2 separate regions of the Homo sapiens genome follow, and region 1 is linked to region 2. The links come from fine-mapping of genetic effects on gene expression. A gene starts in region 2. The other region holds a variant in brackets. All regions are shown on one strand. Distances are from middle to middle. Region 1 has its middle 110 kb from the start of UCHL1. Region 2 holds the start of LIMCH1 (LIM and calponin homology domains 1).

Evidence for each region. PIP is the estimated chance that this variant, and not a neighbour inherited with it, causes the effect.
Region 1: its variant is fine-mapped to the expression of LIMCH1 in sun-exposed skin (GTEx, PIP 0.91).

The regions. Positions count from the first base shown.
Region 1 is chr4:41,366,871-41,375,373 of GRCh38, forward strand. It overlaps a transcript of LIMCH1 not described here. Among named protein-coding and RNA genes, the nearest start is that of UCHL1, 110 kb to the left of the region's middle. The variant T/G (reference allele first, on the strand shown) is at 3,715.
Region 2 is chr4:41,533,410-41,541,912 of GRCh38, forward strand. It overlaps LIMCH1 (LIM and calponin homology domains 1), which reads left to right and starts at 4,748. Exons shown (of 32, transcript NM_001330672.2): 1 at 4,748-4,941.

The DNA of each region.
Region 1 (8,503 bases), 170 kb before region 2:
CGACCTGAGACTGGGTAATTTATAAAGAAAGGAGGTTTAACTGACTTACAGTTCCACGTGGCTGGGGAGGCCTCAAGAAACTTATAATTATGATGGAAGGCAAAGGGGAAGCAAGACAGGTCTCATATGGTGGCAGGAGAGAGAGAGCAAGCGAAGAGGGAACTGCCAAATGCTTTTAAAACCATTAGCTCTCATGAGAACTCACTCACCATCATGAGAACAGCATGGGGTAACCGCCCCCGTGATCCAGTCATCTCCCTGCAGGCTCCCTGTCCTGACATGTGGGGATTACAACTTGAGATGAGATTTGGGTGGGGACACAGAGCCAAACCATATCAGGATGGCTAGTGTATCTCAGGGAATTACCTTTGGCATCAGGAAAAGGACAGATGATATAGTCATATAAAATGCACCTAAGAAATAACTTGGCTGATACCTTTTCCCACTGTCAGCAAAACTGTGCTCTATGCTGAGACCTTAAGAATAAAATATTGGTTAGGTTGGGAAAGCTCCATGTTTCCACTGTCCTGCATTTTGCCTGTGAGAGTTACTCTAGTGTGGCTGTTGGAGGCTGCAGCTTGGCCTCCTGGTCAGTGTAAGTTAGGGACTGCCCCACCCATTCACCCCTAGATAGCCCATTAGGAGGCCATGGAGGAATACACCTGCACTTGCTTTTAAAATCAAGGTCGGCTAGGTGCGGTGGCTCACGCCTGTAATCCCAGCACTATGGGAGGCCAAGGCTGGTGGATCATGAGGTTTGGAGATCCAGACCATTCTGGCTAACACAGTGAAACCCTGTCTCTACTAAAAATCCAAAAAAAAAAAAAAAAAAAAAAGGAAAGAAAAATCATCCGGGCGTGGTGGCAGGCACCTGTAGTCCCAGCTACTCGGAACGCTGAAACAGGAGAATGGTGTGAACCTGGGAGGCGGAACTTGCAGTGAGCCAAAATCGCGCCACTGCACTCCAGCCTGGGCGGCAGTGCGAGACTCCATCATAAAAAAAAAAAAAAAAAAAAGAAATCAAGGTCAAGAACAGAAGGACTTGTAGCTTTTTCATTTCCATGACTGAAAACTGTTAAAAAAAATTCCTCAGCCTTATTTTTTTGCCAAGTATGTTCACCAAATGGGTCTGCACCAAGTGAGGAACTGAAGTTATATTTATTGCAATGAGTACATAGCTATCTTTTTCTCCCCTCAGAAGTGTTTAAAAAATATTTTGAACAATTATTTTATTTTAATTGAATATCTTATTCCAATTGAAATGGAATGAAAGCGACAATAAGCTCAGTCAAATTGTTAAAATATGAAAATAATTATTTGGGAGACTTGGCTATCACTCATTTGTAAGTTTGCTTCAGTATAAACAGTGGCAAAAATAAGCATTAATATTTTAATGTGTGAAAGTGTGCTTTCAAAAATTATTTCCTGAAAAGTGTTTACTGAGCTCCAACAATGTGCAGCATAGTGTTAGGCATGGTGTTAGGTAATGAACAAAATAAACATACTTCCTGCCCTCATGAAATATACAATGTGGCAGGGGGACAGAGAGATTAAACAATACATATATAATTACGATTTGGAATACATACTATGAAGACAAAGAATGGGGCAGGGGGGATTAAGAGAAAAGCACTCTTTAAAAAGACAAGGATTCTTAGTGAAAATAAGATTTAAGCTAAGACCACGGAAGAATTCTAAGCAGGAGAATTTGATTGATGATGATTTATTGAGAAAAGGGCTTGCGTTGGATGCTACACATACTTTTATTATGATTGTGTTTTGAAACAAGGTAGGGTAGAAACACTCTTAAATTTCTCTAGGTCTATTGAAGGTAGATATGTGTTGGTGGTAGGGCAGGGGGTGAAGGTACCTGCCTCGGAAGTTCTTGAATATTCCTTGCAGGCCACTCAGAGTTTGCATGATGATCCACTGTCCATTTTACATCTGAGGCACAGATAAGAACTCTTCTAAGAAAAATGCGGAGAGGACTTTGGGATTTGTGTTTGAGCCTAGACTCTGGATTAAAATTCTTGGACAAAATAGAGGCTGTAGAGGCTGTACTCCACTCTTAGCAGGAAGGGGCTGCGGGAAACCTGCTTGCTTTTCAGTGAGGGAAGAGAGCCATTTTGTGTGAGACTTAGGGTGGTGACCCACAGATGTCTTCTCATTTGGGAACTTTTCCCAAATTCTTCCAAAAGAGGGGGCTTTATAAACTACTAAAGCCAGGTGCCCTTTGGGATCCTCATAAATTGTAAACCCTGGAGGTCCTTGACTGAGATTCCTTTCAACACTTGAACTACCATTCTTAGACCCCCTCCCCCATCTTCCCAGTCTAACATGGCTGCTGGAGAGTCGTGATCACATCACCTTTCCAGGAAGCTGGATGGAGGCAAGGAAAGTGAAGAGTGCATCCTTCCCATATAAGGTGGCTTCTGGGAAACCCTTTCTGACATACTGGCTACTATTTTATTGCCCAGAACTTCAGGAACATGGCCCTTTCTGTATATAGGAGAGACTCTGGAGAAGGATCTTTTACCCCAGGCAGGAGTAATGCTCAGATAATATTCTTGAGTTGTATTCCTCAGGAAAAAGGGGAGAATGGCTATTGGGGTAGCCACAACCTGGAATGCCCCTTCTCCACTTCTCCAGGGACAAATCCTTTCAAGATAGAGCTTAAACCCGACTGCCTCTGCAGCATGGTCCCTGATTCCTCTAAGCTCATTAATCCTTCCCTTCTTTGTACACACCTGAGCCTCAGTTTTTGCCTTTTTTTTAGAAAAGTTGCTGTATTTTACTATCACGAATTTTTTTTGTGTGTGTGTGTGGTGGGGGGATTTGCCTCCTTTGGTGAACCCCAGAGCCCTGTGGCCAAGGACTGCGTCTTAGTCATCACCCTGTTCCCTCCTTGTTTCAGCCAGGCTGTTCCTCACTAGGGCCTCACAGCCACATTTCCCCACTGCCTGAGCGCTTTCTCAGTGAGTCTGTGCCCAGCTACGGTTGCCTGATTGGCACTTGGACTTGGCTGTGGCAGAGAAAATAGACTCTGTTGCTGCCCTGACAGGAAGCAAAGTGTGTGTGTGTGTGTGTGTTTTGTAGTGATTAAAAAAAGCAGTTTACCCAATAGTTGCCTGGAGACAGTCAGTGATTGGACACTCGGAGGGTGATTTCTCTGTTGGCCCTTGGGTGAAGATATTCTTTAGGGTGCTAACCCTCCCCTCAAGTTAGACTGGGTCAGGGCTCGTTGGAGTTCCTGGCTGCAAGGCGGGAGAGCAGACATCTCTTTTCTTTAAATAAACATGCCCCCAGCATTCGGCCTTAGGGCTCTCACCTTCTCTTTCTTTCCCTAAGTCAAAGCAAACCTCTCTTTCACCTGTTATAGAAGTCTAGCTAATTCCCACTTCTTAGGATGAGGGAAAGATAGAGCACTTCCAATGATAGTGAATCTAAAAAGAAATGGAAGAATTTTTATTATAGTGGTCACCTGTATGAGTTCTTATTAGACAGGTATTTTTAAAGGAAAAAAACCCAAAATAACTGACTAGTAGCTGGTATCCATGGTATCAATAAATGGCCACGGCTGTGACTGTTAATTGTCATGACCCAATGGGAGCACTGAGAAATAGCATCCCCTCTTCTTTTCCTATGGAAAATTAAAAAAAAAGTTGCCTGTGGAGCTGAATGTTGTCATCAGCCAACAGATGAGGTTGCCACCTT[T/G]TTCCCTAAGGGACCATGCAAGATGTCATAAATAGGAGGGGCCAGTGACAAGTAGAAGCCTGATTCATTATGCTGTTAGAGTTGACAGAGTGTGATAATAGTGATAAAAATGGCTAGTTCAGTGCCAAATAAAAATAACAGCAAACACACTTCTGGAACACTTACCATGTACAAGCGGTAGTCTAGGAGCTTGCTTGAGTGGTAGTGTAGGTGCTTGCATGAGGTGGTATATTGTGTATAGAACAAACACCCAGCACAGTGCCTGATATATAAGATACTTCTCAAGCAAGCACTGTTTATGGCCGTTTTACAGATGGGAAAATGGAAGCACGGAAATGGTAAGTGATATGCTTGAAGCCACACAGATAATCAGTGGCAGAGCTGGGATTTGAACCCAGGCAAACTGGTTCCAGAGCTTGGACTGGTGACTGCTGTGTCCCGCTGCCTTATCCTTAACAGCTGCTCCGTATATATTTACTTATTGGAAAAAGTACCTTTGCAGAGTTAGTATTTGGGACCCTTTAGAAGTAAAAGCGAAACTTCTAAAAAGATCATGGTCCCAAGTAACTACCTAACCAAGCAGGTGACCTGCCTCTCTCCTTCTCTCTCTTCATTCCCTTAATGGTTCAATATGCTGTTTATTGAGCATCTTCTATATACATAGCACCGTTAGTTGCGAGGAAACAATTTCATCCATATGGCTCCCAAGCACATTCTCTGAAACTGGAACCCTTTCAATATGTTTTAAAAGATAATTGTCAGTAGGGTGGTTAGGACCATGATGAAAAATCATTACAGGAGCCCAATGAACCATCATCAGTGGGTGGAACCATTTTTACTCCCTTTCACTTCACGTCTATTTCCCCAGTCTTTTTCTCCTTGATTGGAACCTGACTCCCCCACTGGATTCAAATAGTCCTTGATGCTGAGATCCAGACTGGAATGATTATAAACAAGGGGAAGGAAAATGTGGATTTAGGGTGCCTCCCTGCCAGGCACCGTTAGTTCTTTGCGTATGGTATTCTGTTTAGTCTTTGTGTAACACAGGTATCTGCTGCCCCCGTCCCAGTTTGAAGTTCTCTACTGTGCCTGTTTCAATAAATTTCACCCATGTTAAGACTGGCAGGCCTGATCCCACGTAGCTCCTGAGTCCCCACATAGTGCCCACATGATAGTTCTTCTTTTGGCCTCATCTGGCACCTCCCAACAGCAGCTCCACTCTTAGACCTCTCATGTGGCACAGGCTCTGGCATTCTGAACAAATATAGTTGGCTATTTTATAATGTCGGTTTCTGTAATGAGGATTATTACATATGCGATTGGGAAATAAGAGAAGCATGCTTGGTAAGGTGCAAGTTGCGATGGTTCATGTGAGATTTTTATTAACACTTGCGTATTTTGTACCACCAAATAGCAGTAGTTGAAAACAAAATAGGATAGTAGAGGTGAACACAACCAGCCAGGGAGGTGAACACCCCTCTTTTTGCTCTAGACTCCATTTGGCTTTGTGTTGATTGAAACGTCTGCTTTTCCCAGATCTTTCTGCATTTTCCTCTCATCTCCATAATGCAGCAGTCTCGGTCTTTCCTCACACCCTTCCACCATGCGCTCTTGCCCCCCACCTTTTTGTGTAATCTTCCGTTTGTTCTGTAATAGGAAATAGAAAACATCTTTTTATGTGTGCTGGTAATTTTTAGTGTTCTTGTTTTTGTTACTGCTCTGGTTACAAAGTTGAGTAGGGTTTGGGCCTTTTACATGAACTCTGTATTTTCCACAAGCCCTGTTATTTTTAGTGTGAGATTTTGTAGGATACAAGGTTTTTGGCTGGCTGTCTTAGTTTGGGACATTATTCATACATTTACAGGAATATGGATACTGTTTTATGGTAGAAATACATAGATATTAATAGTTTGGGCAGATAGTATCTCTCACACACTTACCCACACAGATGCATACATAAAACAATACCTTGAAGATTCCCAGTGCTGGAGCCTGGGATCTTGGGTCATATGGAAAATGTTTTCTTTAGGAATTTCACATTTCCTATCTGCTATCAGAAGACCTTGGACAACATTTCCAGGAGAAGCTTCTGTTGCCTTTGGAGGAGGTAGTTGAATATTGTCTGTGTGTGTGTTTTTCTGATCCATTTTTCTTTGAGATTTTGTGCCTGGGTACTACATAAAGCAGCACTGTTTTCATCCAGGAAACCTACAGGAGTTACTTATTGTGAGTGAGAAGCTTAAGTGAGTTGGAAATGAGGAAACTGAGACTTGAGGGTTGGCAATTTGTCTGAGGGTCAGTGACTTCTTGGCTGCGATTATTCCTGTTCTCTGGAGCCCTTTCTACACCAGTATATGAGTATTGGCAATTTGTCTCCGTTTGGGACATCATTCATTCATTCATCATATAGTTATTGAGCGTGTCCTAGGGACTCAGTAGTATGAGAGACAAATGTGAGATTTCCATTCCACCTGGAAGGATGGACGCTGAGCACAGAATCACGCGTGTGATGCATGCTTGGAAAGGGAAGAGCAAGTTGGTCTGGAACACAAAAAGGGCCGGGATCTCCTTTGGTCTAAGGGGCAATGGGACAGCCTCTCTGAGGAAGTGCTATGTAAGCTGAGACCCCAAGGATGAGCAGGGGTTGGCCATGCAAAAATGAGCAAGAAATCATGTTCTAGGCAAACACTTCAGGCTGTAGTGTTTGCCTTAATGGAAGAGCTGAAGAAGACCAGTAAGGCAGGAGCTTTGGGAGTAGGTATGAGGGAGGTGCAGGATGAAGCTAGAGTGGGCTGCAGGAAAGCTGCATGGTCCTGGCACCGAAGATAGGAATCCTCCGTGCTTCTTGGCCCGGCCTGGGCCATGGCTGGCCTTGTCTGGGAGGACAGCAGTTGGATTTTCTCCAAACTCTCTCAAATTACTATAGTTCCTGACAAAAGAATAGAAACATAGCTAACATTTATGAGAGCTTATGGCCTGGCAAATTCTGTCCTAAGCACCTGACTTTTCAACCATCCTATGAGCTAGCTACAAACTCTTATTACTCCCATTAAACCTAGAAATGAGTGAATGGCTAAGGGTTTTACGGTCATTAGGTGGTAGAGCTGATCTTCAAACTCATGCAGTCTGGCTGCTTTACCTGTGCTCCTAACCACCATGCTATGGGGTGTGATATGGTTTGGATTTATGTCCCTGCCCAAATCTCATGTTGAATTGTAATCCCCAATGTTGGAGGAGGGGCCTGGTGGGAGGTGACTGGATCATGGGGGCAAATTTCCCCCTTGCTGTTCTTGAGATAGTGAGGGAGCTCTCACGGGATCTGGTTGTTTAAAAGTGTGTAGTACCTCCCCCTGCTCTCTCTTCCTCCTGTTCCTACCATGCAGGACATGCCTACTTCCCCTTCTGCCATGATTGTAAGTTTCCTGAGTCTCCCCAGCCATGCTTCCTGTAGAGCCTGCAGGACTGTAAGCCAATTAAACCTTTTTTCTTTATAAATTACCCAGCCTCAGGTAGTTCTATATAGCAGTGTGAGAACAGACTAATACAGGGTGCAAATGCAGGCTGTTGACCAAGGGTGTCTGTGAGGGATATTGATGAGGGGGAACAGCAGTAAAGAGCTGGGGGCAGGAGGGTAGAGGTAGGGGATGCCTAAGGATGCTGGAGGCCAGTGTTGGCTTTAGACATGTTTTCTGTATTTTAAAAGAAACTCCAAAAATAAGTCCTCTCACCTTGACAGTTTTGCCACCTGGGAAGGAGAGTGATTGTATAGAAAGAGTGCTCCAGGCATCTCCCAAACCCCACATTCTAATGCATGGGGACTCTGGTTCCCAAGCAGCCTGATGAACCCTGGTATTGCTCTGACATGATAGGCCACTCATTTTTAACTTCCATCAAGAGTTGTAAGTAGTATGATATATTTAAAAATGTATTTCTTATTTTATTTTAAACTCTGTGTGTGTGTTTAATAATTTTTTTCATTCAATTTTTTTTTTTGTTTTAGTTAGCATTCTTATGGTTGCAAGCAACAGAAATCCAACCAAAACTGGCTCTAAAAAATAGACAGTTGATTGCTCATTGACGTTCTGGAGGTAGATCCCTACTTCATACAAAGGCTGACTCAGCAGCTCAATGATATCAGTAAGGATCTGGATTCTCTCTCTCTTTCCACCGTGCTGTGCATTGTGTGGCTTTATGCTCTGGCTTTACATAGGGCCTCCACACCTGCCCTACCCCACTTCAGAAGGTCCAGGCTTTTCCACTAAAGGCTGGCTGGGAAAGAGCGACTCCAGTCCTCAAGTTCTCTTTACACCCTCTGGGCAGAGAAAGAGGACACATTCTCATTCATGATCACCAGGGAAATAGATGAGTTGATTAGCCTAAGCCAATCAGACTTCACCCTGGTCCGTCCCTATCAAAGATGCTGGCTGCTACCCAACAGAGAAGCAGTGAATTCCCTAGAGGAAAATCTGGGTACTTTTAGTAGAAGAATGGGTAAAGTGGATGCCAAAGAGGCTACCACCAATTGTTACTAACATTTTATTAAAAATGTGGTAATATACAAGAACACACAGATGATAAGGGAAGGAAGGAAATAATTAAAATGAACTATTCAGAACACTGACTACTTCTTGGAGGTGAGTATAAGATTATAAGCTGGGAGTGGTTAAAAAGAGGCATTAATAGATTGTTTTACTCCTATTTTTATAAGACTAGAACAGTGCTATTTTTAGAGGTATCACTGAATGTCAAGTGCCCAACCCATACCTAATGGGTTCTATTAGGTGTAAAA
Region 2 (8,503 bases):
CTATTGAGCAGCCAGGGCATAGATCTCTCATTCTCCTGAACACCGGCTCCTTGTGCTTATAGGACTTTAAAGATAACACAGTTTTCCTTGGTTAACCTTTCTTGCATGACATCCAAGGACTTTTTTCTAATTTTCTTCTGCACATATATACCAAATAGAGATGATGTGTTCTCTCTCTTGCCTTCCAAGTAAAAATCCACTTCAAGACATAATTCCTGCCTTTTAGGAGACTACTTTCTAGAAGACAAATATAGAAGAAAGGTCAAATGTAAGGTAGACTGTGAAATGTTAATGAAGTATAATATGCAAGAAAGACCAAGGAAGAAATTTTGATTTGTGATTAAGAACTTTGGAAGGGGTGGGATTTGAACAGGGCGTCTACAAATAGTGAAGATCATGGAGTTAGAGGAAGAACAACTAGCTTCAGGGCATGGAATGAGAAAGGCTCTGAGTCAGAAGGACCTGGGTCTTATCTGGAAGTGGCTATCATTTGCATTATTTGCACTGGGTCCAGTGGCTGCAGCTGGACGCAGAGTCCCTGAGAAAATCCATGCTTGGAAACTAGACCAGGAATAGTAAGCTGAGACCAGAAATGCCATCTGGGGGTGTTTGGACTCATTTTGTGTGCAGTAAAAGCCACTGAAAACAAGGGAATCTCGTGTTCCAGATAACTGAGGTGGCCGTATAGAAAGCTGATTATGGCAAGATACCAGCAATAAAAGTCAAGTAGGAGATAAGTAGTCCAAATGAGAGAGGATGGACACTTAAACCTTAGTAGAAGCAGTGGGATTAGAGATGAGGAGACAGGATTTACTTTTCACTAAATGTAATATGCCATCAATGATGACACACACCATTTTTAAAAATTATAGCTCATTTAAAAAAGCTGCCAATTCAATGATGACACAATGCTAAGACACTGGCAATGAAAAAAATGCATCTTTATTTCAGAGGTTAAAAAAGGTGTACATCTTAGAACTGATGAAATACAACAGATAATTTTAGGAAGATGACATTTGCATTTTGGACTTGAGCAGTGTGGAGGGTACTGATGCCATTAATAGGAATCATGGGAACATGGGAATGAGAAATGAGCTCCAAAAGAAAAGATGCATTCTCTTTTGGACATATTGAGTTGGCTATCTCTAAAAGATATTCATGTGCAGATGTCTGGCAGACTATTAGAAATGCTGGTTTGGAACTCAAGGAAAAAGTTACAAAAAATTGGACTAGGTTAATGGATGGACTATTTTGAAGTTAAATCCTATGCTTCAGTATAAATGAAGACATATTTTTTTTTTCTATAACCACTATGAAGTTCCCCTCCCCCTCCAAATTATAGTATTGTCTTTGGAGTGTTTGATCCACATTGGCAGGGACTGGGATATGGAGAAAGGAGTGAAAAAAGGAGTTTGAGACTACAGGAAAAGTCATTAGCAATTGCACTTAGAATTGAAAATCATGACAGAAAGACCGGTGCAGTGGCTCATGCCTATAATCCCAGAACTTTGGGAGCCTAAGGCAGGTGATCGCTTGAGCCCAGGAGTTCAAGACCAGCCTAGGCAACATGGCAAAATCTTGTCTTTACTAAAAATACAAAAAATTAGCCAGGCATGGTTGTGCATGCCTGTAGTCCCAGCTACTTAGGAGGCTGAGGTAGGAGAATCACCTGGGCCTGGGAAGTCAAGCCTGCAGTGAGCTTTGAATGTGCCACTGGACTCCAGCCTGGGTGATGGGAGTCGGACCCTGTCACAAAAAAAAAAAAAAAAAAAAAAGAAAAGAAAAGAAAGATCTTCATATAATTGACAATTCATTGAGATATCATATCCATCCAATCTTGTGCCCTGCAGCCTCTCTTATACCCCTGATATTTCATTCTTAGTACTAGATGAGTATATTAATTTGCTCTGATGGCCATAACAAAGTACCACAGATTGGATGGCTTAAATAATAGAAATTTATTTTGTCAATTCTGTAGGTTAGAAGTCTGAGATCAAGGTGTGATCAGAGTGGGTTTGTTCTAAGGCCTGTCTCCTTGGCTCCCAGATGGCTGCCTTTCCCTGCATCTTCACGTGGTCTTTCCCCTGTATGTATCTGTGTCCATATTTTGCCTTTTTATAAGGACACTGTCGTATTGGATTAGGGCCCCCTCAGATGACCTCATATAACTTAATTACCTTCTTACAGTCACTACAGTCACATTCTGAGTTAGAACGGGTTAGGAGTTCAAGATACGAATTGGGGGAGGGAGGAGGAGACAATTTAGCTCGTAACAGTGGGTTAGCCAGCTAAGCCCTTAAATTCTTATTCACGTGTGTTTTGAATGCCTAGACTTGCTAGCTGAAGTCTAATATCCTCTTTCTGCACCACCACAAACTATTTTTCCAAATTTGTTTCCATAATTATTCTGTGTCTCTGCAGAGGTGGAAGGTTATATATAGCAGTGCTGTAAAGCTTTTTTTTCCCCAACTTCATTTTTTTTTCCCTTTCCTGTTCCCGAAAAAACAAAAAATGCCATTCTTTGAAGAAAGAAACCACTTGTTCTCCCTTATCTTTCGTTGAACAGCGTTTAGCAGAATTTGTGACATTACATCAGTTCCTCACTTTTTTCCCTTAGGAATAGACCTTCAATTACAAACTGTGAGCAAAAAATATATAATAGCAGGAAATACATATTTCAGCTGACGTCTGACTCCTTTTTTTCCATAGTTATAGCTTACCTAGAGGATAACTTTCTGTGGAACTAATTCTTAGCATGTATTCCAAACCCAGGTTTATAGGGATTTGGTTGTTTGACAACAGGAAAAAAATACCACCAAATGTATGAAGTATGAGACCATGCTAGGCTGAAACAGCACTTCTCTTAAAACGTGCCTTCCTCTGGATTGTTTTTGTAGGAAGTTTGTCTTGGCAAGCATTTCAAAAGAACTCGCTAGACGCCTCTCTTGTAATTAGCTGGCTTTCTGCTAGAATGTTAGGTCTACCTTCATCTCAAATGGTACAAAAATTAATTCCTCTCTGTCGCTCTGTCCACAGTATAAAATACTAGATTTCTGAGTAGTTTGATATCTAATTTTTCCTTTCTAAAATTTAACTATATTCAGTTTAAGTTTTTGATTTAACTTAAACATAACATTAAAAATAGGATGATTGATATAATGTTATATAGGAATGGTACTTTTCCTCTTTTCCCTCAGTGTTAAAAGAATGGTACTTTTTCCTCACAAAAACCTATATCCCCAGCCATGGAAAGAATATCAGACAAACCTAAATGGAAGGATATTCTACAAAATACCCGACCAGTATTCTTCAAAACTGTCAAGGCCATCAAAAGCAAGGCATATCTGAGAAACAAGGAAAGTCCAGAAAAAGTTAAGGAGACATAATGATTAAATATTATATGGCATTATAGATGGGATCTTAAAACAGAAAGAGCATATTAGGGAAAAACTAATGAAATCCAAATAAAACATGGATTTAGTTAATAGTAGTGTACCAGTGTTTATTTCTTAACTGTGATAAATGTAGATGTACCATAGGAATGTAAGATGTAAGACATGAGTTATACTGAAACTCTGCATATTATCTTTGTAGCTTTCTATAAATCTAAAAACTATTCTAAAATAAAAAGTTCACTTAAAGTAGGATGAATGACAATAAAGATAAAAGAGCATAATGCAAGGAAACTATGAAATAGGTAAGGAAATACAGAAGTTATTAATAAATATTAAATGTCAGCCTACCACTTGATGTATTTGTGTCAATAAATGGCAGGATACCAGTGAGTCCATTGGCATATTAATCCAATAAACTTTTATAAATGATGAATTGGTTGTAAACATTGTGTTTTATAGCATTTGAAAATTCCAAATGGTAACTCCGCACACGATGCTTCTGCTCACATATTTCAGCATCCTGCTTTTAGAATCTGCAGAAAGAAATAGTTCATGTCCTTTAGGGAGGTTTAATAAAAAGCAACAGGTGGAAAATGGATTTTGCAGTAGCATGAACAGCCATAACCATAAATACTAGTACCTCAGAATTATACCAGCAGAGGACTGTAAACACATTAATCTCCCAGCAGTGCAGAAATTCCATTCTCAGATGTCATCTCAATTTCAGGCACAAAGATTGAATGCCTCCATTTAAATTCAAAACACTGAAGGAATATGATGATCCTTTTTTTTCATGGGGATTCATGGAGTGAGTTTGCCAGTTTCCTCATCTATAAGATGGGGTTGATAAATCCCATCTCAGCATTGTGGGATTAAATGAGATGATATACATAAAATACCTAATATGATGGATGGTACACAGGATGTTTTCAATAAATGGTAGTTTACTTTTTATTATGCTCATGAACATTAGGATGGTCTTAGAATCCCAGAACTAGAAGCCACTTAGAGATTTACTTTTTGAAACATTGTTATTTTACAAATAAGGAAACTGAGACCAGAAGGCAGTGACTTGCCTGGAGTCAGGCAGCAACTTTGTTCCAGAGTTGGGACTGGAGTGAGTCTTTGTTCCTCGGGTCCCACTTGGGTGCTTTTTCTAGATCCAGATTTCCTGACAGTACTGCAAACCTACTGTGTGCTAGTGGCTGACACAAAGCTCTCTGCACAATTCCAATCCTGGCATCTCTACTTCTGAAGATGCCATTCCTTTTCCTCAGAGGGAATGGGCTTCTCCGCCTCCCTCTCCAATAGGTGTGGCAATCAGCTGTCTTCCAGTTCCCTTTCACTGCATCAGCATTTCAGCCGCAGCAGCCTGCTTGTGGACAGAGCAGGGGTTGGCAGTGGTGACGACTGTTTTGGGAAAGGAAATGTAAGGGCATTTCGGCTGCTGTGCTGGGGCTGACGAGGAGCACACAGGAGAGATGCCCCTCCCATCTCCCAGAGTGGGTTGGCTGGAGTTCATTGCGGAGCATGAGGACGTGTGGGGGTAAGTAAAATTCATTATAAAAGAAATACATGCTTAGGGGTATCCATGATGGAAAGAAGGAAGCTATTTAGACTTTAATACTTGGTTTAAAAAAAAGTGACTTTTTATTCACTTATTAGTATGGCGAAAATAATATGAAAATTACTTTCCTGTGGATTCATCTTGTCCTTTGATAACTGTTAGCACCTGTTGCTTTTAATTAAGCTTTTTTTTTTTTTTAATTCCCTAAGGAAAGCATTGTTTTTTATTTTCCGGTATGTGGTACAAGACACATAACTCCATTAGTTTAGTCAAAATAAAAAGGATTTTTGAGAATTTTGAGAATGAGAAGCAACTTGGCTGCATTTTTAAGATGTGGTCCAGCAGCACATGGTGTTGTGGGGGAGATGTGGCTGCATTCATGGTGGGGCTGCTTCACCTGAGCCCCTGTCACATTCTGCTCCTGACTCCACAGCCCCCTTTGCTTTTTAAAAACTTCCATTTCTTAAAATGAGGAGGAAAAGAAGCAAGGAAGACATTGGGGAGGCAGGGAGGAGTCTGGAGGGAAGGGCTGCATCTCCAGCCTTGCCCACTTAGTCCTTGTCCTTCATAGTCACTATTTACTGCAGGCCGGGAAAGGAATGGGGGTTATTTCTGGACAATTGTCTCATAAAATCCCGTCAGACCCGTCTGAATGCTAAACGTTCCATGGCACTGGTTATCTAGGGGAAGAAAATTTTCCTTAGCCAAATTTATGAGGCTGGGTTGAAAATCAGGTTGAAACAGAGCCTGGCGAATCCCTATGGCAAAATGATTCATCTTTGTGGAGTCGGGAAATCTATTTTTATCACCTTTATTCAGCCAGCTCCTGATTGTGATTCTCTCACTGAGCTACAGCCGTTTTCTTCATGGTGCTGAATAGACCAAATGTCTCAGGAGTCTGAAACTTCTCTCCTGCCACTCCCAGAGTGGCTGATTCAGCAGTCCCGGGAGAAGGGGTTTGTCCTGTGCTGCGCGGGTGGGTTCCGCACAAGGTGAAGGTCAAATAAAACCGAGAGGCTGCAAGTGTCAGCAGCCAGCCTTTGACTCAGGAATCCTGCCTGAGGGTATGTGCCACTCTGCTCTCCTGCTCTCTCTGTAAGGTGACTAGAAGGTGACTGGGCAGCCATAACTCCTCCAATTTTGAAGACCTTCCCAAGGGAAGAAGGGGCAAGAATAAGCCACCCTCCTTACAGCTGCCAATACATCTCCTCAATCTAATCATCGGGCAGAGAGGGACTTCCTAACACCGTTGTATTCATTTTCCCATTTCCATTTAGTTCTGTAACTATGCATTCCAGGCTGATACATAGTCCTAGCTGGTTCTTGCTGGAGTCCCAACTAATGCTGAGAGGAGTGGCAATTGTTCTCTATAATAAAGTTTAAAGGATAAAGATATGGAAGAAGAACTCACTCTTGAGTTTCCTTTTCTAATGGATTCAGCATGCTTACTCTCTGGGAGCTATAACAAATGGCAATTAGGAAAGCAACAGGAATGTTGACTAGACAGGAACAGTGACCATGGCTGTTGGGGGTATTCCCTGCACCTGGTATATAGTAGACACTCAATAACAATTTGGGAAATGAATGACCAGGATACTGTTCCCCATAGGCTTCAGTTGGCCTTCTTAAGAGCTCTCCTTCAGGACATAGTATGCAGGGCAGCTAGGAGCTGACATTCTAGAGTGAGATGGCCTGAGTTCAAATCCTGGATTTGCAGCTTCTCAGTTGTGTGCTGATCTTTGGCAGGCAACACAATCGTTTGTTTCCTCGTCTGTAAAAATGGACATAATATAGTAACTACCTTATGTGGTTTTCATGAAGAGTAAATTAATTAATATAGGTAAAGAGTCTAGATTTTTTTTTCTTGTCATGTGGTTCAAGATATGAAGAAGAAGAAAAACAGGAGTAGGAAAAGAAGGAGAAAGAGGAGGAGGAGGAACTTTGGCTGTTGGGATAAATTTGGGACCCTTTGAGATTTTGGCCCTGCCTTTTAGGTTGAATATTTCCCTAAAATCATGATTCAGTGATTTTTAAACCTTCTCTTGTCCTGTAGAGAGAATAATTTGAGAATAAAAGAATAAAACGGGCCAGATGCAGTGGCTTACGCCTGTAATCCTAGCACTTTGGGAGGCTGAGGCAGGTGGATCACCTGAGATCAGGCGTTCGAGACCAGCCTGGCCAACGTGGCGAAACTCTATCTCTACTAAAAATACAAAAGTTAGCCGGGTGTGGTGATGGGCACCTGTAATCCCAGCTATTCAGGAGGCTGAGGCAGGAGAATCGCTTGAACCCGGGAGGTGGAGGTTACAGTGAGCTGAGATCGCACCACTGCACTCTAGCCTGAAAAGAAAAAAAAAGAATAATAAAATGGATTTCAGGGGGAAAATGATGACGAATTATTGCCAAGAGTTATTGAACTCCTGCTCCTTGCCAGGTACTAACCATATTCAGTGTTGAAACAAACTGTCAGTCCTTGCCCTGATGGACGCTGCAGTTGACTTTCAAGGGCTGCTGGGCAGTGTGAATTCAATGGCTCAGCGAACACAGCTGCTACGTTCCTTGTTCTCTACCTTTTAAAAAGGAATGTTGAGTAGATCTAGAAGGATGAAGCTTTAAACTTAGCTCCCAACAGGAAATGAGGAGTGAGGAAGTAGGGAGAGATTTGTGTGTGTGTGGAGTAGCAGATGAAGTCTAACTGTACAGCAGTATAAAGGCAGTGAAAGAAATGTAGACGTGGGCATTGGATTGAACCATGAAACTGAAGGGAAATCCAAAGCAGTAATGTATCATCAACCTGTGAAATGTAAAGAAGCACAGGTAAGTAGTGAAAGAATGAAGGAACCAAAGCAGTTGTTGTAATGATATAAAATAAGAGCCATAGCTTATTAGACCCTTAGAGTCCCAAAGCCCAGCCTTGAGAGTGTAGATTCGGGAAGGCTGGATTCCTTTGGCATCCTCTCTTTTCAGCTCTGGGTACTGCCGCAGCAGGTGAGCTTGTGTTTGGTCCCTTTCAGAGTCTGGAGTCTCCCATCTCTTGGAAATACAAGGATATGTATGAGCTACCAACTCCCATCTGGCTTTACTGGTCTGTGAAACATTCTATTTTAATTTGGTGAATCCTTTTTTGACTCTAGAGATCTTCAGCAGTACCTGCCCTTCACACCGTTTCCTCACCTTTGCCAGATCTGCTTTTGAGTAGCAGTTTTATCCCTAGATGTCTTATAGCCCAGACCTGGTAAATCACCAATGTGAATTATAGAACAGGATCATTTTTCATCCTGCTTTCATCCCAGTGGCTGGATTAATTTTTGGATCTCTGCTTTCTGTAAGCAGTCATTTCTTCCACAGCAGCCATCTGTGAAGAAACAGAGCTTACGAAATGACTGGGGCATGTTTTACATGGCTGTGCTCAGTTCCTTCTGTTTGATTCCCATGTAAGCTTTGGCAGTGATTTCCACAAGCGTTTCTGTGGGAGGTGCTGGAGAATGACTTTGGTAAACAGCCCCTTGGCTATTGTTGGCCCTTTCCCTGCAAATACCAT